Homo sapiens: one gene and its partners. The protein of the gene in region 1 interacts with the protein of each later gene in a pairwise test. Each region holds a gene or a part of one and is shown in the gene's direction. Other genes may lie near its edges. The genes, in order: MORN4, KRT25, SSX2IP, SEPTIN6, BEND3, CRTAC1 and HMMR.

Evidence for each region.
Region 2: the proteins of MORN4 (region 1) and KRT25 interact in binary tests that used the Homo sapiens proteins (3 or more experiments, as listed by UniProt).
Region 3: the proteins of MORN4 (region 1) and SSX2IP interact in binary tests that used the Homo sapiens proteins (3 or more experiments, as listed by UniProt).
Region 4: the proteins of MORN4 (region 1) and SEPTIN6 interact in binary tests that used the Homo sapiens proteins (3 or more experiments, as listed by UniProt).
Region 5: the proteins of MORN4 (region 1) and BEND3 interact in binary tests that used the Homo sapiens proteins (3 or more experiments, as listed by UniProt).
Region 6: the proteins of MORN4 (region 1) and CRTAC1 interact in binary tests that used the Homo sapiens proteins (3 or more experiments, as listed by UniProt).
Region 7: the proteins of MORN4 (region 1) and HMMR interact in binary tests that used the Homo sapiens proteins (3 or more experiments, as listed by UniProt).

The regions. Positions count from the first base shown.
Region 1 is NC_000010.11:97,626,365-97,630,679, reverse strand, and holds part of MORN4 (MORN repeat-containing protein 4), read left to right. Parts: intron 1-4,315. UniProt on the Homo sapiens protein: Plays a role in promoting axonal degeneration following neuronal injury by toxic insult or trauma.
Region 2 is NC_000017.11:40,746,896-40,750,116, reverse strand, and holds the end of KRT25 (keratin, type I cytoskeletal 25), read left to right. Parts: intron 1-791; coding exon 792-859; intron 860-1,730; coding exon 1,731-1,840; 3' UTR 1,841-2,096; downstream 2,097-3,221. UniProt on the Homo sapiens protein: Essential for the proper assembly of type I and type II keratin protein complexes and formation of keratin intermediate filaments in the inner root sheath (irs). Plays a role in the cytoskeleton organization.
Region 3 is NC_000001.11:84,655,675-84,659,989, reverse strand, and holds part of SSX2IP (afadin- and alpha-actinin-binding protein), read left to right. Parts: intron 1-1,521; coding exon 1,522-1,672; intron 1,673-3,505; coding exon 3,506-3,642; intron 3,643-3,984; coding exon 3,985-4,158; intron 4,159-4,315. UniProt on the Homo sapiens protein: Belongs to an adhesion system, which plays a role in the organization of homotypic, interneuronal and heterotypic cell-cell adherens junctions (AJs).
Region 4 is NC_000023.11:119,686,395-119,690,709, reverse strand, and holds part of SEPTIN6 (septin-6), read left to right. Parts: intron 1-4,315. UniProt on the Homo sapiens protein: Filament-forming cytoskeletal GTPase. Required for normal organization of the actin cytoskeleton. Involved in cytokinesis. May play a role in HCV RNA replication.
Region 5 is NC_000006.12:107,098,199-107,102,513, reverse strand, and holds part of BEND3 (BEN domain-containing protein 3), read left to right. Parts: intron 1-3,217; 5' UTR 3,218-3,228; coding exon 3,229-3,265; intron 3,266-3,760; coding exon 3,761-3,963; intron 3,964-4,315. UniProt on the Homo sapiens protein: Transcriptional repressor which associates with the NoRC (nucleolar remodeling complex) complex and plays a key role in repressing rDNA transcription.
Region 6 is NC_000010.11:97,901,138-97,905,452, reverse strand, and holds part of CRTAC1 (cartilage acidic protein 1 isoform A precursor), read left to right. Parts: intron 1-638; coding exon 639-784; intron 785-3,813; coding exon 3,814-3,950; intron 3,951-4,315.
Region 7 is NC_000005.10:163,473,816-163,478,130, forward strand, and holds part of HMMR (hyaluronan mediated motility receptor), read left to right. Parts: intron 1-241; coding exon 242-390; intron 391-1,642; coding exon 1,643-1,857; intron 1,858-4,315. UniProt on the Homo sapiens protein: Receptor for hyaluronic acid (HA). Involved in cell motility. When hyaluronan binds to HMMR, the phosphorylation of a number of proteins, including PTK2/FAK1 occurs.

The DNA.
Region 1 (4,315 bases):
TATTTGGGCACATGTGACAGTTTCTAGCCAAATGTATTCAACCATGGCCTGAGACTCATGGATTCTACACACATTCCCTTTCATTAGCACTTCTGACTGTGGTCTTGGCAATGGACATCATTTTGGCAAGCATTTGCTGAAGGGAATTTGCTATATGTGCCTAAGTCAAAATGGAATGGAAGTTTGTAGTATGTACTGTTGAAAACCAATGGGAGAGGATGGTGGGAGGGTTAGGTTGAAACATGGTATTCCAGTTATTATTGCTGTATAACAAAGTACCCCAGAATTTAGCAGCTTAAAACACCCATACTGTGGCCAGGCGCGGTGGCTCATGCCTGTAATCCCAGCACTTTGGGAGGTTGAGGAGGGCGGATCATGAGATCAGGAGATCAAGACCATCCTGGCTAACACAGTGAAACCTCATCTCTACTAAAAATACAAAAAATTAGCCGGGGCCGGGCACAGTGGCTCATGCCTGTAATCCCAGCACTTCGGGAGGCTGAGGCAGGCGGATCACAAGGTCAGGAGATCGAGACCATCCTGGCTAACATGGTGAAACCCCGTCTCCACTAAAAATACAAAAAAAAATTAGCTGGGCATGGTGGCGGGCGCCTGTAGTCCCAGCTACTGGGGAGGCTGAGGCAGGAGAATGGCGAGAACCTGGGAGGCAGAGCTTGCAGTAAGCTGAGATCGTGCCACTGAACTCCAGCCTGGGAGACAGCAAGACTCCGTCTCAAAAAAAAAAAAAAAAAAATTAGCTGGGCGTGGTGGCGAGCACCTGTAGTCCCAGCTACTCAGGAAGCTAAGGCAGGAGAATTGCTTGAACCCGGGAGGCGGAGCTTGCAGTGAGCCGAGATCACACCACTGTACTCCACCCAGCGTGACAAAGCGAGACTCTGTCTCAAAAAACAAAACAAACAAACAAAAAAAAAACACCCATATGATGCTCATGGATTCTGTGGGTGAGGGAATTTGGACCTGGCACCATGGGGAGGCCTCTCTCTGCTCCCTGATATGGGATGGAATGCAGGCTCAATGGCTGAGGGCTGGAATCATCTGAAGGCTCCTTCACTGATGCCTGGTACGTGGGATAGGATGATTCAAAGGTAAGGGCAGCCAACTGGAACACCAATATATGGCTTTTCTGTGTGGCTTGGCTTTCAGTGTTAGCCTCTGTGTAGTCAGGCTTTTTATGTGGTGGCTCGGGTCTCCAAGTGTGAGTGTATCAGTGACAAGATGGAAGTTGCATCACCTTTTATGATCTAACCTCAGAACACACCACCATTTTCTTTTGAGACAGAGTTTCACTCTTGTTGCCCAGGCTGGAGTGCAATGGCGCGATCTTGGCTCACTTCAACCTCCGCCTCCTGGGTTAAGCAATTCTCCTGCCTCAGCCTCCCAAGTAGCTGGGATTACAGGCATGGGCCACCACACCCAGCTAATTTTGTATTTTTAGTAGAGATGGGGTTTCTCCATGTTGGTCAGGCTGGTCTTGAACTTCCGACCTCAGGTGATCCGTCCGCCTCGGCCTCCCAAAATGCTAGGATTACAGGCATGAGCCACCACGCCCGGCCCACACCATCATTTTCATTGTGTTCTTTTGGTCCAAGCAGTCACAAGCCTACTCAGATTCAAGGGAGGGGAGGTAGATTTCACCTTTTAATGGATCAATGGCCAGATCAAATTGTAGACAAACATGTAAGACAGAAGATACTGTTGCAAACATCTTGGAAATACAGTCCGCCACATTTGGTAATAAGAAGGTAACCTTTTCAGTTTCATTGGCTTCCTTAAAATATTTAGGGTATAATCCCCAAGAGCTAACAGCATACTAAAAAAGTGGTTAGGGGCTGGGCGTGGTGGCTCATGCCTATAATCCCAGCACTTTGGGAGTCCAAGGCAGGCAGATCACATGAGGCCAGAAGTTTGAGACCAGCCTGGCCAACATAGTGAAACCCCATCTCTACTAAAAATATGAAAATTAGCTGGCCGTGCTGGCACGCCTGTAATCCCAGCTACTCAGGAGGCTGAGGCACGAGAATCTCTTGAGCCTGGGAGGCGGAGGTTGCAGTGAGCCAAGATCATGCCATTAGACTTCAGCCTGTGTGACACAGTGAGACTGTGTCTCAAAAAAAAAAAAAGAAAGAAAAAAAGTGGTTAGGTGTACCACTTGAAAACTAGTACTTTGTCCGTAAATAACCCTCAAACTGGAGAAATGTTCCCTTCTTTCAGCAATCTTATACTGTTCCTTCTGGAACAAGGTAGAATGCCACTCTTTGGAAGTTTCACGTAGCCTTGAGAAAAAGTAAATAAATACAAGGCAGTACTTTCCCTGAGTCCCTGTGTAGTCAATATGACTCCTCAAATCCCACTGCAATAACTCCTTCCAAATTTTGAGTGAAAACAAGTTGGTTAACTGCTGCCAGACATCTAAAGGAAATGCTCTTATAATCTTTTTGTATAAATAGTGATTTTGTGTTTAGGTTTTGGAATGGTTGTTTAATTATAAGATTTAGTGGAAGATACAGCCCTTCAGATTCTAACTGATGTGTTTTGAAGGAATGAAACTTCAACCATAAGCTGACTTTTAGTGCTGTAACTTAGTTCTGGGAAGAGCTGAGGATTGCCTGATCAAAATGCCCGTCTGTACTGGAAAGCGTTTTCTTCTGCTATTCTGATGGAAAACTACTTCTCATGCTCTCATTAATGTTATATTTGCAATGGAGTCATGTTGGCCTCTACCCCAGCACACTCTGATGCTGGGCTGGTGATAAGAGGCTTGTGAGCCTGAAATTGGATGCTGACCTTGTGGGACATTGATAGGACAGAGATGACATGGCAAGTACCAGCATCACGTCTCAGAAAATAGCTCCCAGAGGTTTGGAGGGAGTTTACTACAAGAAGATAATGGTCCTTGCCTCGGATATCTTCTGTGTGAGAGATACTGGAAATGGAATGCTTGACTGATAACTGAAGAAGGGAGAAAGTCCTATGGGAGTGGCCCCCAAATATCTCTAGAAGAGTCTCCACAAGGTTGCCCTTCATTTAGGCGAGAAATGAATCTTTTCTCTTATTTGGGTGAGAGCACAGGGATTCTTATAACTCGTCTGTCCTCATGGCTGGGACAGAGCCAGGGCGTAGAAGATGTCATTGAACCCTGCTCTGGTCAGGCCTAGCTGTTTTCACATTAGACCATTTCTGGGCTTTTGGTGTCTGTATCAAAAATCATTATGTTCTGGCTGGGCGCGGTAGCTCACGCCTGTAATCTAGCACTTTGGGAGGCCGAGGTGGGCAGATCACATGAGGCCAGGAGTTCAAGACCAGCCTGGCCAACATGGTGAAACCCTGTCTCTGCTAAAAATACAAAAAGTAGCTAGGCGTGGTGGCACACACCTGTAATGCCAGCTACTCAGGAGGCTGAAGCACGAGAATTGCTTGAACCCAGGAGACGAAGGTTGCAGTGAGCTGAGATCGAGCCACTGCACTTCCACCTGGGTGACAGAGTGAGAGTGTCTCAAAAAACAAAAAACAAAAAAAAAAAGGTGTTCAGGTCCCTCTGCTGAAGCTACTCAGCAAAGTCACCAGCACCAGTCTCCATTAAACAAACAAACAAACAAAAATCAGGCCGGGCACAGTGACTCATGCCTGTAATCCCAGCACTTTGGGAGGCCAAGGCGGGAGGATCACCTGAGGTCAGGAGTTCAAGACCAGCCTGGCCAACATGGTAAAACCCTGTCTCTACTGAAAATACAAAATTAGCTGGGCGTGGTGGCAGGGGCCTGTAATCCCAGCTACTTGGGAGGCTGGGGCAAGAGAATCGCTTGAACCTGGGAGGCAGAGGTTACAGTGAGCTGAGACTGCACCATTGCACTCCAGCCTGGGCCACAGGAATGAAACTCTGTCTAAAAAAAAAAAAAAAAAAAAATCTGGGCACAGTGGCTCATGCCTGTAATCCCAGCACTTTGGAAGGCTGAGATGGGTGGCTCACCTGAGGTCAGGAGTTCGAGACCAGCCTGACCAACATGGTGAAGCCCTGTCTCTACTAAAAATACAAAAATTAGCCAGCCATGGTGACGGTCACCTGAAATCCCAGCTATTCGAGAGGCTGAGGCAGGAGAATTACTTGAACTCGGGAGGTGGAGGTTGCAGTGAGCCGACATTGCACCACTGCACTCCAGTCTGGGCCACAGAGCAAGACTCCGTTTCAAGAAAAAAAAAAAAAGAGAGAGAACAAGCATCAGAACATATTATGATTATGATTATGATTATGATTATGATTATGATTATTATTATTATTATTTTTGAGTCAGAGTCT
Region 2 (3,221 bases), on another chromosome or scaffold:
TCAATATGTGGACCAGGATTCTGACTCTGGAAATGGTTTCTGGAGCTCAGCACTCACAGAATCCTGTCTTCATAGCACTGATAAAGTCCCATGGCCACAAGTCTGGATGTCTAGAGCTCAGGGTTGTTAGGAGCAGGAAGCTTCCTGAATTCACAATGAAGATCATTTTCATCACCCCAGAAAGTTCTTCTGTGCCCCACTTCCCTTGGCAGTTATTATTTTATCCATTCTTGATGTTAATATAAAAGGAATCATACAGAAAAAAAAATCACTTCTTAATGCTGAAGCAGAACAAAAACATTACAGTCTCAGAGAAAACCCCACTTAGGAAAAGTATCTTGTAATTGCCTAACTGCTGAAGCGATCTACACCACTCTTCCCCACCTATCATCAAACCCTCCCTCATTGACTAGAGTGATGCTTCCAAATGTAAATCCTTACACAGCTATATAAATTTGTCACAATTCATAAACCTGCAAAACTTAAAAGGGTGAATTTCAACCTAAGTTGTATAAATACACCCAGTGGCATGCTAGAACTGCTGTTACCATCTCATGACAGCCTCTTCTGCCTATCTCTTCTCTTCCTAACCCCTCACTTAGTGATGTCACTTGGTGACTTGATATCAGCAATGGAGAAGGTATTCATACCTCTACAGAAATCAGCAAACACTATAAATCAAATACTGGGTTACACAGTTGAAACTACCAAAGAGCTAAAGAAAACCATATGGTGATCCTAGAATTGATGGGGTTCTCTCTAAATCACCCTCTTTTGCGATGTTTTCACAGAGCCTGTAAGTCTGGGGGTTACAAGTCTAAAGATTATGGATCTGGAAATGTGGGAAGTCAAGTCAAAGGTAATTAAAATGAAATCTGTTGTGCAATGCTAATTTTTTATTTTTTAACTTTTAATTTAGGTTTGGGGGTACATTGGAAGGTTTGTTACATAGGTAAACACGTGTCACGGAGGTTTGTTGTGCATATTATTTGATCATCCAGGAATTAAGCCCGGTACCCAATAGTTATCTTCTCTGCTCTTCTTCCTCCTCCCACCCTTCCCCCTCAAGTAGAACCCAGTATCTGTTGTTTCCTTCTTTGTGTTCATAAGTCCTTATCATTTATCTCCCACTTATAAGTGAGAACATGTGGTGTTTGGTTTTCTGTTCCTGCGTTAGCTTGCTAAGGATGATAGCCTCCAGCTCCATCCATGTTCCTGTAAAAGACATGATCTTGTTCTTTTTCATGGCTGCATAATATTCCATGGTGTTTATGGCTTTATCCAGTCTGTCACTGATGGGCATTTAGGTTGATTTCTTGTTCTTGCTATTGTGAATAATGCTGCAATGAACATTCACATGCATGTGTCTTTATGGTAGAATGTTTTCTATTCCTCTGGGTATATATACCCAACTACTTCATTTTTAATGCATAGCTTGATTGTTCTTATATTACCATGGCTTGGTAAGAATACATACAATAAAGATTTGTAGTAGATATCCATATGTGCTAGATGTCTAATATTAGTGATTTGTGCTAATTTTAAACAAAATAACATGTCACCATGTTTTTTCTAACCAAATAATCAAAATTATTCACCAAAAATGAGTCTAAGTATTTGTGCTTAGTGCAAAGTTCATTCTGTATGCAAATCCTATTATTCCTTTAAATGATATAATTTTTATTCTTTTTTTAACTACATAAAATCTCCTTTTAATTTTTAATGCTCAGACCCAGCCAAAGCCATAGTGGTTAAGAAAGTTCTTGAGGAGGTAGACCAACGCAGCAAAATACTTACCACCAGGCTCCACTCCCTGGAAGAGAAATCTCAAAGCAATTAATTTGAGATGCAACAGAGAACGTATGCCACATAGCCCCTGCGAAGAAAAGGCATTATGTATCTGTCCAGAAAAATGTGCATGTCTAAGAAAAATGTCTAACCTGTTGTCTTTCTGTTACTTTCTTTCTGGGCAATCAATGACAGCATCTCCCCATTCATCTAGAAGAATGCCACACACAAATATGACTCATTTGATTATCCTACAGAAATCTGTTGTCAATTCTTTGTATTCAATAAACCTCTTCTTTAGCAAGTTATCATTGGTGATACTGTCTTTAGAATGTTTATGTGTGCAATATAAATATGTGAACATCTAACAGCTTTTATTATATAAAAACTCTTTCAAAATAATAGATTTCCTCATAGGTTTTCATAAGGCTTACCCTATAATTCAAACTGAAACAAATTCAGAAAGAATAAAAGTACTTTTATTTAAATCCCCAATCTGCCATATTTTGACATACTAAGAAGCCTATTCCCTTTAGTAATAACTAAAGTATATACATTTCAGGTTCTTCATCTGTAAATGGGGATAATAAAAGTAGTTCTTTCAAATGGTTATTGTAAAGATTAAAGAAATAACTTAATGCAAAGTGCACTTATGGGATAAGCATTCAACAGATGCTAATACTTATTTTTAATACTCAATATTTATAATGATTAATTCTCAACCTCATTTTCCTTTTGGATATATATTTTAAACAATATTCCAAATGTAATAGAGGTTATAGCAAAAGTTTTAGTTTAGAATCCAAGTTACAGGAATAGAGCCATCCACTTCTACTACAAAGTTGTAGCTGATGTTTATAACTCTCTTGACCAATAGATTTCTCTCTACTAAAGGGAAATAAATTAGATTAATTAAAAACATAATTTCCTCAGATCAGATATTACCTCTAGATATTTAGTTGACCCTCTATCCTGTATGGATGGATTATCCATATTATAATCTATTCAAAAAAAATGGTTTCTGCCTCTAAGTGAAAATATAAAGCAGAAAAAGAGTCTTTTAAGTGTGTTGTAATTATCCCTGAATTGTTTTTATTGCCTGCTTCTGATACAATCTTAGCCACAGGCCTAATTATGTTCCCCATTAGATTATGTGAAACAAAAATATTACAATCTCAGAGAAAAATTCCACTTAGAAAAAAAATCTTGTAATTGTCTAAGTGCTGAAGCAATTTACACCACTTTTCCCCGCCTATCATCAAATCCTCCCTCATTGATATAGTTTGGCTCTGTGTCGCCACCCAAATCTCATTTTGAATTGTACTCCCATAATTCCTACATGTTGTGGGAGGGACCCAGTGGGAGACAACTGGAATCATGGGGGCAGTTTCCCCCATACTGTTCTCATGGTAGTGAATAAGTCTCACAAGATC
Region 3 (4,315 bases), on another chromosome or scaffold:
CTTGTTGCCCAGGCTGGTCTCGAACTCCTGGGCTTAAACAGTCATCCCACCTTGGCCTCACAAAGTGTTGGGATTACAGACATGAGCCACTGTGCCCAGCCGAATTTTTTATTTTCATTTTGTGGTTAGAGAGTTCTGTTCAATCTGAGAAATGTGCAATAATTATTCATTTTTCTTTCTTTTTTTTTTTTTTGAGATGGAGTCTCACTCTGTCGCCAGGCTAGAGTGCTGTGGTGACATCTCAGCTCACTGCAACCTCTGCCTCCCGGGTTCAAGTGATTCTCCTGCCTCAGCCTCCTGAGTAGCTGGAAGTACAGGCATGCACCACCACGCCCAACTAATTTTTGTATTTTTAGTAGAGACAGGGTTTCACCATGTTGGACAGGATGGTTTCGATCTCTTGACCTCATGATCCACCCACCTCTGCCTCCCAAAGTGCTGGGATTACATACAGGCATGAGCCACCGCGCCCGGCCAATAATTTTTCTAACAGATTGGTAGTATTCTAATAGGCTTTAAAATGTTCAGAAGAGAAGCTGTGCTTCCTTGGAAGAGTTACTGGCAAGTAGCTTTTGAGTATTGGCAGGGGCTAGAATCACCATGAGCCGGATCCTGGGCCATTCCCCTGTCTGCTCCGCCTCAGAGACCCTGACCTCTGCTAGCCCATTGCTGACCTCAACTACTGATAGAGTTCTTCAGACTCAGTTGCTCCCTCATCCTGCTGATCTCCATGTGCGAGCAGTCGAATCAGCCCTTCTTTCTTTTCATCTTTTATCTTTCTTTTTTCCCCAGCAAGATTTTTATTGTTCAAATTAGTGAAGTATATCTCTCTGCCTTCCTGAATATTAATGACAAATTAGAACTACTTTATGTAGATGTGGGTTATTATGACATATATCCCTTTTAGTATTGTTTCCCCATGTTCTTTATCCTGCTTTGATTCTGTGTGATCATATATCAGTAAAGTTTGCTACTTCTTTATGATTTCATGTTTGGCAGAATACAAAGAAAAGTATCTCCCGTTATATAAAAAAGTATATGAGGAAAATAGAATTAACAGTTGCTTTTATTAAATACTTCAGAGATTATTTCACAAGTGCATTTCTTTAAGCAGCCTAGGATTAGAAACAAGTTGATCTAATGTCAAATATCAGTTCTGCCTCTTAGTTGTAATGCTGCTTCTCTAAACCTCGGTTTTCCCACATTGTAATGAGCTGAGGGTTAAATAACGTGAAAACATCCAACACATTAGACAGGTAGTGATATCTCCTTCTCAGACAGCTTCATGACTCTTGTCATTAACTGTATTTGGATTCAAATTCAGGTTTAGAGAGAGCTGAATTTAGGAGTCTCATTTTTTTTCTCAAGACATTTAAATACTGGGCCATATATGCATAAGACACAGCACAGAAATGATTTTGATGTGGCTTCCTCTGGTAATCAAACTGAAGACTACTTGCCTGAGCATCTAAAGCCATTGTAAGGTACTAGCCTTTCCTCTTCATCTCTCTCCGCTTGTAGGTTATTTCCGATGTTGAAGAAGATGCCGGGGAACTAAGCAGAGAGAGTATGTGGGACCTTTCCTGTGAAACTGTGAGAGAGCAGCTTACAAACAGCATCAGAAAACAGTGGAGAATTTTGAAAAGTCATGTAGAAAAGCTTGATAACCAAGGTAACCACTGCTTCTATGCATGTAAAGTGAGTTGTGACATTTGGTAAGGTGTTGATTTTTAGTCACTTAGAAAGCCGCATTATAGGCTCAGAGCTAAAGTACTATACTTCAGTTTGGTGGTTTGAAAGCAAGATTTTGCATACATTTATTTTTTCATTTTATTTTATTTTATTTTACTTTTTGAGACAGAACCTTGCTCGGTCACCCAGGCTAGAGTGTAGTGGTGCCATCTCGGCTCACTGTAACCTCCGCCTCCCAGGTTCAAGTTATTTCTCCTGCCTCAGCCTGCTGAGCAGCTAGGACTATAGGCGCACATCATAGCCAGCTAATTTTTTGGTGTGTTTTTAGTAGAGATGGGGTTTTGCTGTGTTGGCCAGGCTTATCTTGAACTCCTGGCCTCAAGTGATTCACCTGCCTTGGCCTCCCCAGAGTGTCTGGATTACACGTGTGAGCCACTGTGCACAGCCGACATTTTACATACATTTAGATGTGAGGTTTGAACCTCACTGAGAAAAATACACTTTGGTCTCAGAGTGAATGTTTGAAAAGAGGACATCATGGATCCATCTGCTCTGGATGCAGTATACAATCAAATAAAGATAACTGAGTTGGGATAAAAGACTACACATTGGGTGTAGTGTACACTGCTTGGGTGATGGGTGCACCAAAATCTCAGAAATCACCACTAAAGATCTTATTCATGTAACCAAACACCACCTGTTCCCCCCCAAAAAGAGAAAACTGAGTCTCTTTTACTGACTCTCAAAAATCAAGAAATATTTATCGTAGTATAGATAGGAACATTTTGCTTATTTCTAGATGCTTGCAGATTACTATGTTCCTAGTAATTCACTTAAAATTATTTTTAAAATAATAGATGTTTAATGCAAAATATTAATTTGGAAGTATATAAAGTAGAATATCCTGGTCTCTATTCCATACATATAACACTTAACAGTTTGGTGCATATTTTTCTATACTTTCCTCTATGGATTTGAAAGATACTTACTTTTTTTTAAATTTTAAAAATTGAATATTACCTATATTTTTCTTTAGTGTGCTTTTTTCACTTAACTATTATCCTTATACATAGCTCTACATTGATGAATATATTCTTAATATTTTCTGCTTGGTAAAGTTTGAATGCTTTTAAACTAGGAAAATGAAGATTTCTGCTCAGTAAATGAAGCCTATTTAAAGAAAAATTTAAATTGTCAAAATATGAACTCAGTGCCATTGTGTTAAGTATTAGTAAAGAGCAATCAGCAAAATTATTATTACAGCACCAAAATGAATCTACATGAGATTTTGTTCATTTGAGTCAATGCTGTTTATTATCAAATAGCAAGTATGTTTGGACTTCGTATTTGTTGAATTTAATATTTGAGAGCAAGATTTGTGACACTTCATTGATCTTTGAAGCAGTGTCAACAAAAACATGATTTTATTTTTCTCTTCTCTGAATATGGCCATTTTGTCTGTTTTTAATTAGGACATAATCATGAATAAATATGGATTACAAATTGTTGGCAATAGAGCTCTGTTTGTAAGCATATCATTTAGTCTTAAAATTGCACAAATGTGTAATTGTCGTCATGAACTCCTGTAGTTGCTTTGCTTAAACATTTTTTATAATGTTAAAATAATATAAATTTAATTTTGTTATAGCTTATGAAATTTTAAAAAGTCAAAGGACGTAACTACTTTTTAGAAAACCTATAAAATTCTAGAAAGATAAAAGTTCTGAGAGCCCTTGTTTTAAAGATATGTGCAAAACACTGTAAACTAAGTGGTGGCTATAAGACCTATGTCAACTTACTGATTTTGTCTTAGTTTCAAAGGTACACCTGGAAGGTTTTAATGATGAAGATGTAATCTCACGACAAGACCATGAACAAGAAACTGAAAAACTCGAGTTAGAAATTCAGCAGTGTAAAGAAATGATTAAAACTCAGCAACAGCTTTTACAGGTGAATATGAATTACCTTTTAAAGCTGTTCTCCATGAAAAGCCAGAATTGTGCTGAACCTTACCAGATTTGTATTCCTTTATTTCATAAGGCCCTGGTATTTGACAGATTTCTAGTCTGTGTTCCCTGCTAACAGATACATTGTGTACCACTCCTTAAATAGTCCATACTTTGCTAGTTGGGGTAGTAGGTTTCGGGAAATGAGAATTCTCATTTGACTTTTTGATTCTTAATAATTTCTATTCCTGCCCTGAAGTTTGACTGGCCTTCCCTTGCTTTCATTTCAACTCGTTGGAGTGTCGCAAGGTCCCTCAGGAACTTACTATGTTTTAAATTTTAATAGCAGCAGCTCGCTACTGCATATGATGATGATACCACTTCACTATTACGAGACTGTTATTTGTTGGAAGAAAAGGAACGTCTCAAAGAAGAATGGTCCCTTTTTAAAGAGCAGAAAAAGAATTTTGAGAGGGAGAGACGAAGCTTTACAGAAGCCGCTATTCGCCTGGGATTGGAGGTATTTTAAACAATTGTAGTGCTTTTGAAAATACTGGGGGTGGGTGGGCCTCAGTAGAATGCTTCTAAGGTCTCCTTTTTTTCTTGCTATTTACTTATTTTCTAAAATATTTACTGGTGATCTCACAAATAATTTGAAATGAGAGGGAGGCTGAGCA
Region 4 (4,315 bases), on another chromosome or scaffold:
CTCTGTTGCCCAGGCTGGAGTGCAAGTGGCATGATCTCGGCTCACTGCAACCTCAGCCTCCCAGGTTCAAGCGATTCTCCTGCCTCAGCCTCCCGAGTAGCTGGGATTACAGGCACCCGCCACCACACCTGGCTAGTTTTGATATTTTTAGTAGAGGGGGGTTTTCACCATGTTGGCCAGGCTGGTCTCGAACTCCTGACCTTGTGATCCACCCGCCTCAGCCTCCCAAAGTGTTGGGATTACAGGCATGAGCCACTGCTCCCGGCCAGGAATTCTTTTTAATGAGCTCTGAGACGTGGTACCATGCGAGTAAGTGCCCTAGTGTGTGTGTGTGTGTGTGTGTGTGTGTGTGTGTGTGTGTATGTGTATGTATGTGGGGGGTGTGTTCTTTCTAGAATCAGTTGAGAGTCACTGTGGGTAAACATCCTTAGTGACTAAAACAAGCCTTCAAGTTGTTGGGTAGGGCTTACATTGCACGCAGCCAACTTGGAAGTTCAATTCTGGTGCACATAATACAAGTCCGTCCCATTTGAATGAACACCACAAACGGTTTGGTGTGACAACACCATTTCTCCACTGTGTCCATATTTACTTGATTGACTGATATGTGGCCAGCACTATGGTTAGCCCTTGTCAACTGGACAAAAAAAGGTAGCAGGCTTTAAAAAACGTTCGTGATCGGACTGGGCTTGGTGGCTCATGCCTGTAATCCCAGCACTTTGGGAGGCTGAGGTGGGCAGATCATGAGGTCAGGAGTTCGAGACCAGCCTGGCCAACATGGTGAAACCCCGTATCTACTAAAAATACAAAAATTAGCCAGGCGTGGTGGTGCGTGCCTGTAATCACAGCTACTCAGGAGGCTGAGGCAGAAGAATCGCTTGAACCCTGGAGGCAGAGGTTGCAGTGAGCCAAGATTGCACCACTGCACTCCAGCCTGGGCAACAGAGCGAGACTCCATCTCAAAAAAGAAAAAAAAGAGGCCGAGGTGGGTGGATCACAAAGTCAGGAGATCGAGACCAGCCTGGCTAACATGGTTAAATCTCATCTCTACTAAAAATACAAAAAATTAGCCAGGCGTGGTGGCGGGCACCTGTAGTCCCAGCTACTGTGGAGGCTGAGGGTGTGAACCTGGGAGGCGGCACTTGCAGTGAGCCGAGATCGTGCCACTACACTCCAGCCTGGGCGACAGAGTGGGAATCCGTCTCAAAAAACAAAACAAAAAAAAGTTCGTGGCTTTTAAGCTTATAGTCTAGTTGGAATGACAAATTGTGGACACTGTGAAATAATTAAAGAACTATAGAAGATCCTTGTGATGCCCCACCTCACCCCCTGACTATGAGGTGGCTTGGGCTGCTATTAATATATATTTCGAGAGGTTCCATGACTTGTCCAAGGTAACCAAGGCACAGGGCAAGCCCCAAAAGCTGCATGTGCTGGCTCTTTTAATGAGCTGTTCCTTTCAATGTTGCATTCTGGGATCCAGACCGTAAATGCCGGCCCATACCAAGAGCATCTGGATGATTCTGGCTTGAACTAGTCCCACAATGTGAACAATGAAGCTTTCTCTAGTGGCAATCTAGGTAGTGGTCATTCTCCCAAGTGAACTTTCAGGGGCTAACTTTGCCCTACAAAGTTAGCTGGGGTTGGTCTGGGTCAACTGTCTCAGAGCAACTGTCTTCAGGTGGGGAAAAGATTGCTGCTGCACTCTGGTTTTGCTATCATCACGTGGCAGTTACCCTTTGATTCCCTTTGAGGTCTCTGCTTCAGGCGTTCCTACCACCACCCACTAAAGGTAGTATCGTACCTCAAACATAGAAAACAAAACCCTATTACCTAGCTCTATTGGTGATACAACACGGAAGAAAGTTTACATGGCCCTAAATATTTAAAAATGTTGATTCTAAATTTGAGGGGTTTTTGGACAGTCATTACATTATTTTCTAACTTCTCTGTGTGTTTGGGATGTTTCTTTTCTTCTTTTCCTTTTTTTTTTTTTTTTCCCCGAGATGGAGTCTTGTTCTGTCGCCCAGGCTGGAATGCAGTGGCGCGATCTCAGCTCACTGCAACCTCCGCCTCCTGGGTTCAAGAAATTATCCTGCCTCAGCCTCCCGAGTAGCTGGGATTACAGGTGTGCACCACCGTGCCCAGCTAATTTTTGTATTTTTAGTAGAAACAGGGTTTCACCATGTTGGCCAGGCTGGTCTCGAACTCCTGACCTCGTGATCTGCCCACCTTGGCCTCTCAAAGTCCTGGGATTACAGGTGTGAGCCACAGCGCCCGGCCTGGGATTTTTCAAAATAAAAAGCGGGCAGAATGACAATGTCCCCCAAATGCACATGGTCCCTTCTTTCAAGGAACTGGTGGAGGCAGACACAAATCACTATCTAATTATCTTTGTGATAAGTGCTACACAGGAGAGTGACTGCCTGCCATGAGATTTCATTACTAAGGGAACCTAACTCAGCAATGAATGGAGGCAGAGGGTGACAGGAAGGGCTTCCTGAGGGCTTCAAATAGGAAATGGGTAGGTGTGAAGGTGGGTGAGATCTCACATCTGCTACTGGGTTGGGAACATTTCATTTGCCAATTCACCCACTTTTATTTTCATTCATTCCTTCAGCACATATTCACTGGGCACTGATCGGCCAGGCCCCGTGCCAGGTGCTGAGGATATAGTGGTGGCCAAGGCACGCAGGAACTCTGCCCTCTCACAGCTTCCAGATGAAAGGCAGGAATAAGCCCTGTTTCCTTTTTACATCCTAAATCCTGGAAATGTGAGTGTTAGCGGTGTTCTTAATACAAAACTACATTATAGCAGAGTGATTTGTCTGTATCATCTAATGAGATTTTGATCTGCAGTCATGTGCATAGCATTTACTTTGTGGAGTCTCTGCTGTAAATTTTCTATTAATTGCTGGCTTTGTTACCAAGCATGGCCACTGCCTTTGTGTGCTATAAGGGAGCAAACCTATTGCATTAGCCTGAGCAAAGCCAATTAGGAAGATAAGTCCTCTGGAAAAAGGTATTCCCAAACTAAGTAGGGCTGATTTCTGGACTTGCCTGGGTTTTTGGATGATCAGAGCCATGGTTTAATATTAGCATGAACAATTGAGAAGGGCTTTTAGTTGCATGTACATTAAAACTACATTCAAGACAGATGAGGCCAGGTGCGGTGGCTCACGTCTGTAATCCCAGCACTTTGGGAGGCCGAGGCGGGCAGATCATGAGGTTAGGAGATCCAGACCATTCTGGCTAACACGGTGAAACCCCATCTCTACTAAAAATTAAAAAATTAGCCGGGCGTGGTGGCGGGTGCCTGTAGTCCCAGCTACTCTGGAGGCTGAAACAGGAGAATGGCGTGAACCCGGGAGGCGGAGCTTGCAGTGAGCCGAGATTGTGCCACTGCACTCCATCCTGGGCGACAGAGTGAGACTCCGTCTCAAAAAAGAAAAAAAAAAAAAGACAGATGAAAGAAAGAAAGAAGGAAAGAAGGAAAAAGAAGGAAAGAAGGAAAGCCATGGATATATATAACATGTTTCTTTCAACGATCTCGAAATGCTTCCATCTGTATGATTTCATTTTCCCCAATGGCTTCCTGGACAAGTATTACTGTTCCCTTTATTTAATGGGTGTAGGGAGACCAAGTTACTTAGTCCGAAGTGCTATTGCTGGTCAGTGGGTGATACGATTAAACACCCACCAGATGACACAGATTCCTTGTTTAAAAACACTTGTCTTTTCATGATGTTTCTAAGACATCAAAATCCTGCCATGACCTCTCTTCCCCCTCTTTTCACTACACTCCCTCAGCACTCCCATAGGGCCCAGGGAAGAGTATACTAGGGTGATTCGGAGACTCTCTGATATTAAAAAGATTCTCAGCTTAAATCCAATATAGCACAGTCACGGGTTGTGTGGGTTTTCTTTTTTATTTTTTCTTCTCCATATTGCTTTAAATAAAAATCTTGGAGCCACCAGCCATGTAATGATGGATTATTTTAAGTAACAACTGGAGTGGGGGGCGCAGAATAAATTAGAAACACAGACCCTTCCTCCTCAGTTTGGCAGGAGGAGGCTTCTGCTGCTGGGATTTGAAACCGTGGGTTTCTCTGCCGCCTGCACAGAGGAAGGAGGCCACATGCTCAGGAGGGTGAGAAATAATGTTATCCTCTTCTTCAGTGTCTTCTCATTAGAGGCAGCCATCTGCTGAATTATGCAGCGCGCTCTCAGCCGGCCCTTCCACTCACTTAAAGGTGACCAGGGAAAAGATCTGCAGGCCTTCTCAGCGAGAGGCCTCAGGGCTCAGGTTTCCCCT
Region 5 (4,315 bases), on another chromosome or scaffold:
CTTCCTCCCACCTCAGCTGCATGAGCCCTCTGGGGTTTCTGCCCACTGCAGGTGGCTGAGATGTGTGCTCTTCCTTCATCACTTTATAGGGGCTCAAAATTCAGAGGCCAAATTGCCTGCTGTAGGGTCACATGGTGGTGGTTCAGAAAATAGCCTCCTTCCAACCCCACTGGAAACAAGGAAAAATAAAAAATCAGAAAATAGGTTTTCTGCTCACCAAGCCACATTCCCGGCAGGCTCCATGTGGCAGCCTGGACTCCAGCCCTGCACTGCTCCCTATGTGATGGGCCTGCCAGAGACACATGGTTGGGCGAATATAATGGCAGATAAATAGACTGCCCTTCTCACCACCCATGGCCCTGTCTGCTGTGTTCTCTCATCGACGCCTGTTTTGTTTTGTTCTAGTATTTGCCCATCCTTTTAGTGCTTTCCACTTACCAGAATCTTTGACTCTTTGCAATTTTTCTTTCACCATGACCCTTTTCCTCCCCAAATAAACCAACCGCTGTCTCCTCCCTCTCTGCCTTTTCTCTGCCAAATGTAATTTGTTTTGTAAAGTATGTCCGCCTCTGACAGCCATCGTTTTGCCCCATCTGTTCTGCATCTCAGAACTCCCCTTGATTGGCAGGAATGGGTTATGTGACCATGGCAGTTTCCAAGGGCAGGGGCATTCAGGTGACCTGCAGTGTGTTTCCTTGAGAGGCCTCCTACCAGGCTGGGAATCCGGTCTTGAATTTCTGCCTGGCATTGTCCAGCCCTTCTAGCCACTCAGAGACACCCAGCTCAGATGATGGCGATCCAAAGTGAGGTGTAGTTCCTTGAAATACAGTGGAAGGAGTTGCTAAAATTTGACTCTGGTAAAATAGTTCTCGGACCCTTGAAGTTGACTTATTATTTGTTTTCTGTCAATATCACCCTGTGTGTAATGTTTTTTCAGGTAGGAGATGGCTTGGTGAGTAGGAATTATTTTCAGTTTCAAATCTCATTTTGGTTTTCATTCCTCTGAAAATTAGCAATACAGGGATGAAAAGAATTGTGCCTGTCTTGCACTATTGTGCACTGTTCTTGAACTAAAAATAGTGCTTCACATCATAAGCACTGTATGTGTTGCCATTATTAGTAACCTTTGCAGTGATGATTGTGCTCATGGATCACCCAGACACACTCTCCCTCTTGCTGCCATCCCCACCCCATTCACCTGTCTAAAACAGGTACTGTATGTCAAACACACACCATTCTGTGGCTACTCCTTGAATGGTTCACTGAACATTTTAGATGGCTTCATGCTTACAGAGTTTCTTTCTTTTTTTTTGAGACAGAGTCTCACTCTGTCACCCAGGCTGGGGTATAGTGGTGTGATCTTGGCTCACTGCAACCTCTGCCTCCCGGGTTCAAGCAGTTCTCCTGCCTCAGTCTCCCAAGTAGCTGGGACTATAGGCGTGTGCCACCATGCCCAGCTAATTTTTGTATTTTTAGTACAGATGGGGTTTCACCATGTTGGCCAGGCTGGTGTTGAACTTCTGACCCCAGGTGATTCGCCCACCCCAGCCTCCCAAAGTGCTGGGATTACAGGCACGAGCCACCATTCCCGGCCAGAAATTTCTTAAGAGATACTTCTTGGTCCTGCTCTCCACTCATCCTCAACCAAAATGAGAACTCTGTGTTTGTAGTCAGCTTAATCAGTTGTGGGGATCACAACTCCCAAGTGTCAACATTAAAGATTGCAATGTATATTCTCCAAATGTTACTACCTTTGTATCTTGTACTATTTATGTACATGCTGTCATGGTATTCGGAGATATCAGAGACTTAGTGGTAATTTTGTTTGTTTTGTTTTAGTGGTGCTTTGCCTCATGGTGTCAGTTCCATTCCAGCTGAGGCAGGCAGGTTTTGCTTCAGACCCTGCAGCCTGGAACAGAGCACTGCCCACCTTTCTAATGAAGCTTAGGCTGGGCACAATGGCTCACACCTCTAATCCCAGCACTTTGGGAGGCTGAGGTGGGCGGATCATGAGGTCAGGAGATCGAGACCATCCTGGCTAACACGATGAAACCCTGTCTCTACTAAAAATACAAAAAATTAGCCGGGAGTGGTGGCTTATGCCTGTAGTCCCAGCTACTCGGGAGGCAGAGGCAGGAGAATCACTTGGAGGCAGAGGCAGGAGAATCACTTGAACCCAGGAGGCGGAGGTTGCAGTGAGCCAAGATTGCGCCACTGCACTCCAGCCTGGTGACAAAGCAAGATTCCGTTTCATAAACAAATAAATGAAATAAAGTATTGTATTTAGCCCAGTAAGTCCAAAATATTATCATTTCAACATGTAATCAATATAAAGCAATTATTAGGACTGGGCACTGTGGCTCAGATGTGTAATCCCAGCACTTTGGGAGGCCAAGGTGGAAGGATCGCTTGAGGAGTTCAAGAGCAGCCTGGTCAACATAGTGAAACCGCATCTCTACAAAAAAATTTTTTAATTAGCTGTGGGTGGCGGCATGTGGTACCTGTAGTCCTAGCCATTCTAGAGGCTGAGGCAGGAGGATTGCTAGAGCCCAGGAATCAGAGGCTGCAATGAGCCATGATAGTGCTACTGTACTCCAGCCAGGGTGAAAAGAGTGAGACCTTTCCTCTAAAAAAAAAAAAATTACTAGTGAGATATTTTGCATTTCTGTTACTAAGTCTGAGATTTGGTGTGTATTTTACACTTATAGCACATCTCCATTGGACTAGCCACATTTTGAGTCCTTGGTAGCCAGGTGTGGCTAGTAGCCACCTTCAGGTCATGGGCAGCACAGTTCTCTTGACAACCGTAAGTCCTAAGATTTCAGGATCCATGGCCCCCATCCTTCAGCCTATTTGTTTTGTGGCTGGAATTTATAAGCATGGACTTAAAAGAGATAATTAAAATTGGGGTCTTTTTTAAGAGTTGATTTGTTCTTGTAATGTTCCCATGGCTCAGTAAGTGGCTATCAGTGGATGCTGTAAGACACATTCTGCTCACATAAAGTCTTGGAGAAGAGCTCCCAGCAGGGATGCACAAGGCCTGGCTGCTCCTGAGTGTCTGCAGACAAGATTAGGAGGACACATAGCTTCCACAGTGCTGTGCTGCTCTGTTACCTAGAGCTGGGGTTGGGAGGGTAAGAGGATTTTCTGTGGGTAGAGAAAATTAAGAAATAAATCAAGCAATAAGTCAACACATTGTCTTTGTCTTTTTATTTAGCGGAATAGAAGATGAACTCAACTGAATTCACCGAAGATGTAGAAGAAGGTAAAAAAAAAATGCCCTTTTTGAAAAATGTTTTTAACTGAATACTTTTGATCAGGTCATACATTCACATGGTCCAAAAATATACAAAGTTATATAGTGAAAAGTCCCCTCCACCCACACACTTGTTCCCCGGTTCCCATCCCCCTCCACCCACACACTTGTTATAAGCACCTTGTGTCACTTTTTAAAAATTACTTTTTTAAAGCACAAAAAGATAATATTTTATGTCTCTCCTTCCACTGTCTTCCCCCCCAAAAAAAGATGTTTAAACCAATTTGAACTAAATGCTCTTGGAACATGGCTTTATTGTACAGCACTAGTGCGGTGAGATAAAGATTGCATCGTTGGAAAGCTCAGGTTTGTTACAACTAGACATCATTATCTCAGCACTGGTGTCAAAGGGCGGCCCACAGACACCCTGCTGCTCAGAGAACCCTGCTGATCTCTGAGCAGCCCTGGTTTTTCCCACTGAGCCCTATTTCTTCTCTGACACAGTTCTAAAAAGTATCACTGTGAAAGTGGAGACAGAGGCTGAAGATGCTGCTCTGGACTGCTCCGTGAATTCCAGGACTTCTGAGAAGCACTCTGTGGACAGCGTCCTCACTGCCCTGCAGGACTCCAGCAAACGAAAGCAGCTGGTCAGCGATGGCCTGCTAGACTCTGTCCCCGGCGTGAAGAGGAGGCGGCTGATCCCCGAGGTGAGGGCCTAGCTGCTGTCACTCTTTGCTTGGGCTCTAACCCTCTCTGATTCCATGCTGAATCTCCCTCTTGTTTTGGGCATCCTGGCAACTGCTGAACCCTTGGGCATGGGAAGGTTTCATTTAAGCTATCCCATCTCTGGCTTCAGTTTCTCGAAAGTGTCTGTCTTTAACTGGAATTCTTGTTTGTGTTGGGATTCCTGGTGGGTAAAGGGAGCCTTCACATTGCAGCTGCTTTTGCGTTATTTTGCTGTGCTTTGTGGGGGAAAGCAGGAGCTTGCTGATAGTGAGGACGGTTAACGTAAGCCTACCACACTTGACATAGTAGCTGATTCTTGCAAAAGTGGGGCAT
Region 6 (4,315 bases), 270 kb from region 1:
GGTCAGGGAGGGCTTCCCGGAGGAAGTGACATTGTGGCTGAGAGCAGAATAACCAGGAGCTGGGTAACCTAGAGCTAGAGGGAGAGCATCCCAGGTAGAGACCTGCTTGAGCAAAGGCCCAGGAGCTGGAAAGATGGGGAGAGTGGGACCAGATCAAGACCAGATAAGGCGGACAGGACCATGGTCAGGCAGAACCCTGTGCTCCCCAGGCAGGAATTAGAACTTTCCCTAAAAGGATTGGAGGGCATGATCAGCTTAAGCAAAAGAGTGGCATGATCAGCTTAATGTCTTCCAGTGGCAGTGTTAGGGGTGGCCGGGAAGAGCCTTTGGTCCTCCAGAATTTCCCCCAGTCTCCCTCCCCCAACCCATGCCACCCCCCAAACAGGGTAAAAATAATATGCATGCTGGGCAAACACAGCTTGAACACAAGTCTTGGGTCTTCTTTTCAAGCACATGACTGTCCCACTTCCTGCCCCTATAGAGAGCTTCTGAGACTGCAGCTATGTCTCCCGTATCTCCTCCCGGGAACAAGATGAGAGTCACCCTCCCTAGTTGCTTGTCACAGAGCTAGAGCAGGGTGAGTGTTTGTGGAGTGTGCAGGGGATGCCGCCCTGAGAGTTCCTGCCTCTCCTCCCCAGGTGTGGACGACCCCCACCAGCATGGGCGAGGTGTCGCCCTGGCTGACTTCAACCGTGATGGCAAAGTGGACATCGTCTATGGCAACTGGAATGGCCCCCACCGCCTCTATCTGCAAATGAGCACCCATGGGAAGGTCCGCTTCCGGGTAAGAAGGGGCCTCACCCCAGGAGTTCAAGACCAGCCTGTCCAACATGGCAAAACCCTGTCTCTACTAAAAATACCAAAAATTGGCCAGGTGTGGTGGTGCGTGCCTATAATCCCAGCTACTCCGGTAGCTGAGGCACAGGAATCTTGAGCCCAGGAGGCAGAGGTTACAGTGAGCTGAGATCGTGCTACTGCACTCCAGCCTGAGTGACAGAGCGAGACTCCATCTCAAATAAAAAAATAAATAAATAAAATAAAATAAAAAGAAAGGGCCTCTCCCTCACTCCTCCCTACAGCACCACTGCAGGGGTGCCCCGGCATGCCATGGAGCTGCCTCGCTCCTCCCACCAGGCTGAGCAGGGCTCAAGGCTCTCAGGGCCCAGAGTGGGGGTGGGGTGACAAGGAAGGTTACACCAGGGGACGAGGGACTACAGCTGGGCTGCTGTAGGAGCTCTGGATCCAAGAGTAGGAAGAACCAGGTCAGCAGAGGTGGGAGAGCAGCCTCCGAGGTGGGCCGGAGTCCTGGGAGGTGGACTGCACTCTCTGGATCCAGGCCATTTTTTCTGGTGGCTCCTGGAAAGGATCCAGCAGCTAGAGCAGAGAGTGTTTGTGGAGTGTGCAGGGGATACAGGATGGCATCCCCTGCACACTCCACAAAAGCCAGGCCTCAGCTTTTTAGACCTTTTCAGACTGACGTTCAAACCAAGGGCAAAGTGGTGGAGAGAATGGAAGATTGAAGCCACGGAGTTCCCAACAGCTGCCCCTAAAGACAAACAGCAGATGGCAGGCAAGGTGGCCTCAGAGCCCTCTCTGTGCCCCCTCCCTGAGCTGTTGATAGACCGATGCCAAGAATTCTTCAAAAGGGCTGTTAGTGACAGTGATGGAGGTGCCAACAGCATGAGGGGCATGGGTTTGGAACTTTCTCAGGGAGGGCAACAGAGGGCATGGGCTGGTTGAAGCTGATCTCAGGGATCCAGGACTGTTCTGCAGATACCTAGGTCTGCCAAAAACCCCTGAGGAAATGGGAAAGTTCCAGGGTTTTCCTGAGGCTTGAGGATCCCAGGGAAGTCCCCAGGGACCTCATGTCTGTGTAACCAAGAAGAGGCCACCCCTACCAAGTCCCTTCCCTGTAAGCAGCCACCTTGGGACGCCCAGGCCCAGCCACTCCCTCCCTGCTAAGGCTTGAGACTCAGGCTCCCTGGGCTGGGAAGAGGCATGCCCTGAGCCCAGGACAGCTCGTCCTGGGATCTTGGACGATTTCCACCTTTATTCTACTCTTGTTCTCACCCAGCTTCTCAACAGGGATGATCTTGCTGCCCTCCCTCTGGGACATTCAACAATGTCTGGGGACATTTGGGTTTGTCACAGCTGGGGAAGGGAGGGCTCCTGGCATCTAGTATGCAGAGCCCAGGGATAGGGCTGAACACCCTACAGTGCACAAAGCAGCCCCACAACAAAGGATTATCCAGTCCCAAACGCCAACGCACTGAGGGTGAGGAACCCTGTTAATTCTTCCGAAGGCCCCTCCCCAGAGCTCTCAGGAGCAATAATAATACTAATAATACATAAATGCCCTATTTATCAAGTGCCTTCCATGTGTCACGAACTGTGCTAAGCTTAACATACATTATCTCGGAAGCTCAGGCATCGAATAGGGCAACCCCAAGGGGGCTATGGGAGGTTTCCATTTTTATAGGATCAATAGAATCATAACGGCTAGAGATCCTGAGGTCTTTTTGCTCCCTGGCTCTTAAGGCCCAGCTCAACCCACCCAGACCAGCTGGCCAGGCTTATTCAACCTCATTACTCCTCTGATGGAGACAGCCTCTTTCCCTGGCCTCCCCAGAGCAGGCAGCTCGACCGCTGACCCAGCCTGCTCATCCCTGTGGCTGCCAAAGAGGGTCTGCAGCAGGAGGCCGAGAGCAGGCCCAAGTCGGGTAGAGGATGCTCCCAGAGACACCACCTGTACCTTTCTCAGCCCTCTCCACGTGGGCCCTGGGACTTAGACATGTCCCCAAGGTCTTTAGGGGAAAAACCCACCTATGATGAGGATATTACGCTCAGAAATAGAAGATTGCCCTTCCCAGCTCTCCTTCTATTTCAGAGGCAGAAACACACCTGGGACCCTTTGCCTGGTCCCCCAAGGCCCTCCCAGTACTTTGGAGTCCCAGCTGGGCTATCCTGGGCCTGGGGTCTCCCCATTAGTCCTGGACAGGTGTAGCTGATACCGCAACCCCCTCAAAGCAAATGTCTCAAAAAATAAAAATAAAAAGACTCCCAAGAAACAACGTAAGGTAGTAGAGGCAGCCAAATCCACAGCTACAGGTAACCTCTTTCACCTTCCCTGAGGCAGGTGGTGGGTAAGGCAGGACAGGCTGCCAGCGAGCTATGTCATGCCCACTCTGTGCCAGGCATTTTACATGCAATCCTCACAACCCAGGCAGCTATTACTATTCCCACATTACTGATGGGGAAGGTGAGATCCAAGGGGGTTAGTAACTTGCCTAAGATCACACAGCTAGTCAGTGGTGGAGCCTGGATTTAGATGCACAGAGATTTCCGGTGCCCACCCAGCTTCTGACTCAGCACAGAGGAGGAAGGGTGCCTAGGAGAAAGGGCACAGAGTCCGGAATCAGAAGCCCTGGCCTCCCCACTCAGTAGCTGTGACATCGCAGTTCCCCTCCTTCTCCAGGACTCAGTTACCTCACCCGTCAAATGGGAAGGCTAATGTCTGTACTGCCTCAAGGGATGGACAGAAGGGATGGACAGGTGTGATCCAGACTAGGGATCGGCTAAGCACTTCACTGGTGTCTAGCACGACTGTTATTCTTCCCTCCTTCTTCTCGTACAAGCAGCCTGAGGTCTGTGTGGTCCTAAAGGCAGCCCCCAGGTCCTTTGCGGGAGGCAGGAGAGGAGCTTTTGGGTTGGACTGTCTCTTATTTTTAATTGCCCCCACACTCCATAGAGGAGAGCTGGCCTCCCGCCCCAGCCCACTCTCCTGCCACTGACCCCCAGCCTTGTTTCCTCCAGGACATCGCCTCACCCAAGTTCTCCATGCCCTCCCCTGTCCGCACGGTCATCACCGCCGACTTTGACAATGACCAGGAGCTGGAGATCTTCTTCAACAACATTGCCTACCGCAGCTCCTCAGCCAACCGCCTCTTCCGGTAGATGCTCCATCCTGGCTCGTGGCTCTTCATCCTTGACAGCTGGTGGGAGGAACGGTCAGGGAGAAGGTTTAAGAATCAGAAGGGGAGGGTTCCCAGGGCCAGGGGGTCAGGCCAAGGTCAACACAGGTCCCCTGATGAAGAAACAGAAAGGAAGGAAGGACGAGGACTGGGCAAGAGGCTGTGGGAATGCAGGGCAAAGCCTGGCCAAGGAGCCGGCCTCTGCTATTGCAGGGAAAGGGAAGGGAAATGTGGCCCAAAGTGTGCCCAGAACCCAAGCGCCACAAGATACAAAGCCACACTACCACAAAAAGGGGCTACAGGGTCCAATCACTACCAGGAAAAGGGGCTACGGGGTCCAATCA
Region 7 (4,315 bases), on another chromosome or scaffold:
TGACTTTTCCACTAGGTGGCTGTGTAACAATCAGTAGATAACACAGAACAAGATTTGTGGGTTTTATTATTTAGCACATAGTATATATTACATGGAGTAATGATACAAAGTTCACAGTTTTGTTTTCTTCTTTGGAAATACCATGCTAAAAGCAGTGTAATGGAATATTATGGGAGTCCAGGTTTCTCAGTCTTAATGTTCTTATCTAATTCCAGTATTCTTGATGTTTTGCGTTTTCTAGAAGACCATGTCAACAGGAATAGAGAACACAACGAAAATCTAAATGCAGAGATGCAAAACTTAAAACAGAAGTTTATTCTTGAACAACAGGAACGTGAAAAGCTTCAACAAAAAGAATTACAAATTGATTCACTTCTGCAACAAGAGAAAGTAATTTACCACCATATTTTTTTAAACTGTTCATTTTGTGTCATACATTTCCCTATGTCTCTGAACACCTTTAAATTGTGTATATCCTTTGATCTACCAATTCTATCTTTAGAGTCTTATCCTGAGGACATAATCATGGATATGCTGAGGATTTAGCTACGTATTTTCACTACATGTTCACCCTAGGGTTATGAATAATGTGGGAAAATGACAACAGATACAGCAAAATAGGGAATTTTTAAAAAATTTTCTGGCTCATTCTTGTGTTATTTAGGCTATATAAACATTTACACTTACCTTGTAAAAGACTGTCTAATTACAGAAGAAACAAAGCAATTTTTAAAATCCAGATTATTTATAGAACATTTTACATATCAGTGAGAAGAAAGAAAGTCCACTGAAAAATTATGGGCATAGGATGGAAACAGAGAAGGAGAAGTTCTGGCCTGTAAATATAGAAAGATACTCCACCTTAGTAGTAACCAAGGAAGTAGAAATAATATTTTTTTCACTTACAAAATTGGCACAAATTAAAACATTTGATAACACAAAATACTGGTGAGAGTTAAGCCAACAGGTACTTACATGCACTGATGTGAAATATTATAGTGTTGGACAACCTACAACAGCTAAAGGAATTGAGTAGATCTATATACACTGACCTGGAAAGATTTCAGCAACAGAGTATATATCATTTATATCCCTCCCCAAATGTATATGTATATATAAGTGTAAAGAAAAATACCAGAAGGCATATATATTCCAAACTAGTAGCTATCTCTGCAATGGGAAAACTAAAATTAGGGGGGGAAGTCGTCAAAGATAATATTAACATCATTTGTAATGTTAGAATTATTTCACAATGGTGATGTATTTGTATATTGTATAGCTTAAAAAATAATTTTATGTAATATGGAAATCACCACACACTTTTTACATAATATGTGAAAAATAATGTTAATATCAAAGCCAGTTGTAAAACAGATATATATATATAAAATATAATTTTAGATTAAGAAGTTTCTGCATGTGCGTTGCATAGAAAAAAGCCTAAGATGATATTTGCCACAATGTTAACAAGGTATAGGAAATAATCTATGAAAACAAATATGCTATTTCTATATTGTTTTAAGTTTCCTTGAATCTGTTGAATTTAGGTTTCATCCTTCTTTATCTGTACTTTTTTTTGTCTCCTAGTACAACCTCACAATGCCATTCCAAATTATTTTGGTGGTTTTCTGTTTGGATATAGGAATTATCTTCGAGTCTTCATCAGAAGCTCTGTTCTTTTCAAGAGGAAATGGTTAAAGAGAAGAATCTGTTTGAGGAAGAATTAAAGCAAACACTGGATGAGCTTGATAAATTACAGCAAAAGGAGGAACAAGCTGAAAGGCTGGTCAAGCAATTGGAAGAGGAAGCAAAATCTAGAGCTGAAGAATTAAAACTCCTAGAAGAAAAGCTGAAAGGGTTTGTATTAATAGGATCTCATGTTTATGTATGACTTCAGATGTATTTATTTTGAGTACTTTTTTTAGTATTCTCTTATCAATCATGTGAGCGTGTTAGGTTGGAATTATTTTATAATTAAGTAGTAATTATTAATTATTTTACAATTAAGTAGTAGACACAGAATGTGAACACAAAATGTACATGCAAACAAGTAAGACAGCCCCCTCTTTTAAGTTAAAAGTTAAAGGTTTTGCCCCCTTTTTTTAAGGCCAAAGAGAGTTTAAATAAACAAATGACAAAAGTTTTACACTTCTTTACTACTCTGCTAATTTCTGAAATTTATTGAACATCAGCATTAGAACAATAATCAACTCAGGGCTGGATGTGGTGGCTGATGCCTGCAATTCCCATACTTTGGGATGCCAAGGTGAGAGGACTGCTTGAGCTCAGGAGTTTGAGACCAGCCTGTGCAATATAGTGAGACCTCGTCTCTACTAAAAATTAAAAAAAAAACTAGCTGGGCACGGTGGTGTGTGCCTGTAGTCCCAGCTACTTAGAAAGTTGTGGGAGGAGAATCACTTAAGCCCACGAGATTAAGGCTGCAGTTAGCCGTGATCACGTCACTGCACTCTAGCCTGAGCAACAGAGTGAGACTCTGTCTCAAAAACAAACAAAACACAATAATGAACTTGGGGGAAAAAAATAAAGAATCCCTCCCATTAATAAATAGCATTCCCATTTTTGTCTATGCACTTACATAGTGTAAGTTATACCTTTAATTACATTTTTCCGGGAGCACAAACACTTCAGAAATAGCAATCAAAATGCAAAGCAGGCTGGCACAATGGCACATGCCTAAAGTCCCAGCTACTCAGGAGGCTGAGATGGGAGGATCTTTAGAGCCCAGGAGTTTGAGGCTGTAATGCTCAACGATTATACCTGTTAATAGCCATGGCACTCTAGCCTGGGCAACGTAGCACAAGATGCCACCTCAATCAATAACTGATAAAAAGCAAATGAGAAAAAATAATTATAACTGGGAAACATTCAGAAGTAAGAAATCTCTTATTTACAGTAGAAAGACTGAAATCTTGGCTGGGTGCGGTGGCTCACACCTGTAATCCCACCACTTTGGGAAGCCAAGGCAGCGAGATCACAAGGTCAGGAGTTCGAGACCAGCCTGGCCAACATGGTGAAACCCCATCTCTACTAAAAATACATAGTAAATTAGCCTGGCATCGTGGCGCACGCCTGTAATCCCAGCTATTCAGGAGGCTGAGGCAGGAGAATTGCTTGAACCCAGGAGGCGGAGGTTGTGGTGAGCTGACATCGCACCACTGCACTCCAGCCTGGGCGACAGAGGGAGACTGTGTCCCAAAAACAAAAGAAAAACTGAAATCTCACTTTTTTCCCGAACTCTAGTTCCTTATAATTTCTGCCACATTATGTTTCCTTCTCCCATACACTTATTTATTTCATTTTGTTTTGTTTTGTCCATAGTAATTGCTAATTTTTTATTTATTAAGAGAAACTATTCCTTAGCCTACATATTCATATTTCATAGTTCAGGAACACAGGTTAGTGACAAACACTACTACATTTATTTAAATTAAAAAGTCTGATTTGATTCTTGAGTTCAAATTGCAAATATTTAAATCCTTGGGATCTGATCATTAAAACACTTGTTGTCAAAGGACTGTGGGCTAGATATGAGTTTGTATTATTGTAATATATCTCACACCTGTGTATCTGTCTCAGTGGATACTTTTGTTATTAATCTTTTCTGTTTTCTTATGATTAGTGATGCAAATGAACAGCAAGGTTTTTCATATCCCTGCTTTTGGGGGAACAATACAAAATTGTAATTAGGGGTGTTGTTCTATACTACAGCCAATCTCAGGGAACAGGAATCTTGGGAAAATAAGATAATGTCATTTTAAGAGAGGAAAGAAAATTGAGATAATTTTTTATTCCAACTCAAAAAACTGTGGTCCAATGGTCAAGAGATAAGGATTTTTATTACTAATTCTGTTAGCTAGCTGGTTGATTCTGAGCAAAACAATCTTAGTTTCTTTGATCTTCTACTTCATTAGATATAAAAGAGTTTTATTAGATGGTCTCTAAGATCCCTTCTAGCCTGGAAATTTCAAGCTTAAGAGAAAAACAAACTAAGAATTGAAAATAATTCCTCTAGGGGACAGGGAAGAAAATATTTTTATTATAAACTCTTTAGTCATATTTGATTGCTCTTGCTGTGGTGTGTATATTTTTGAAATCCGGCACTTGTTACAGAATGAATTTGATCAGCTATTTTTCTTATCTCAGTGTCCAACTTAGTCTATAAGTACACAATGCTTATTTACAATTTTTAGTTCTGTATATTCTTTAAAAGATCTCTCATAAGCTCATATGCATATCTAAAAATTTTATCACCACTTTGGAAATATATTATTTCCAAAATATCCCTGAGATTTAA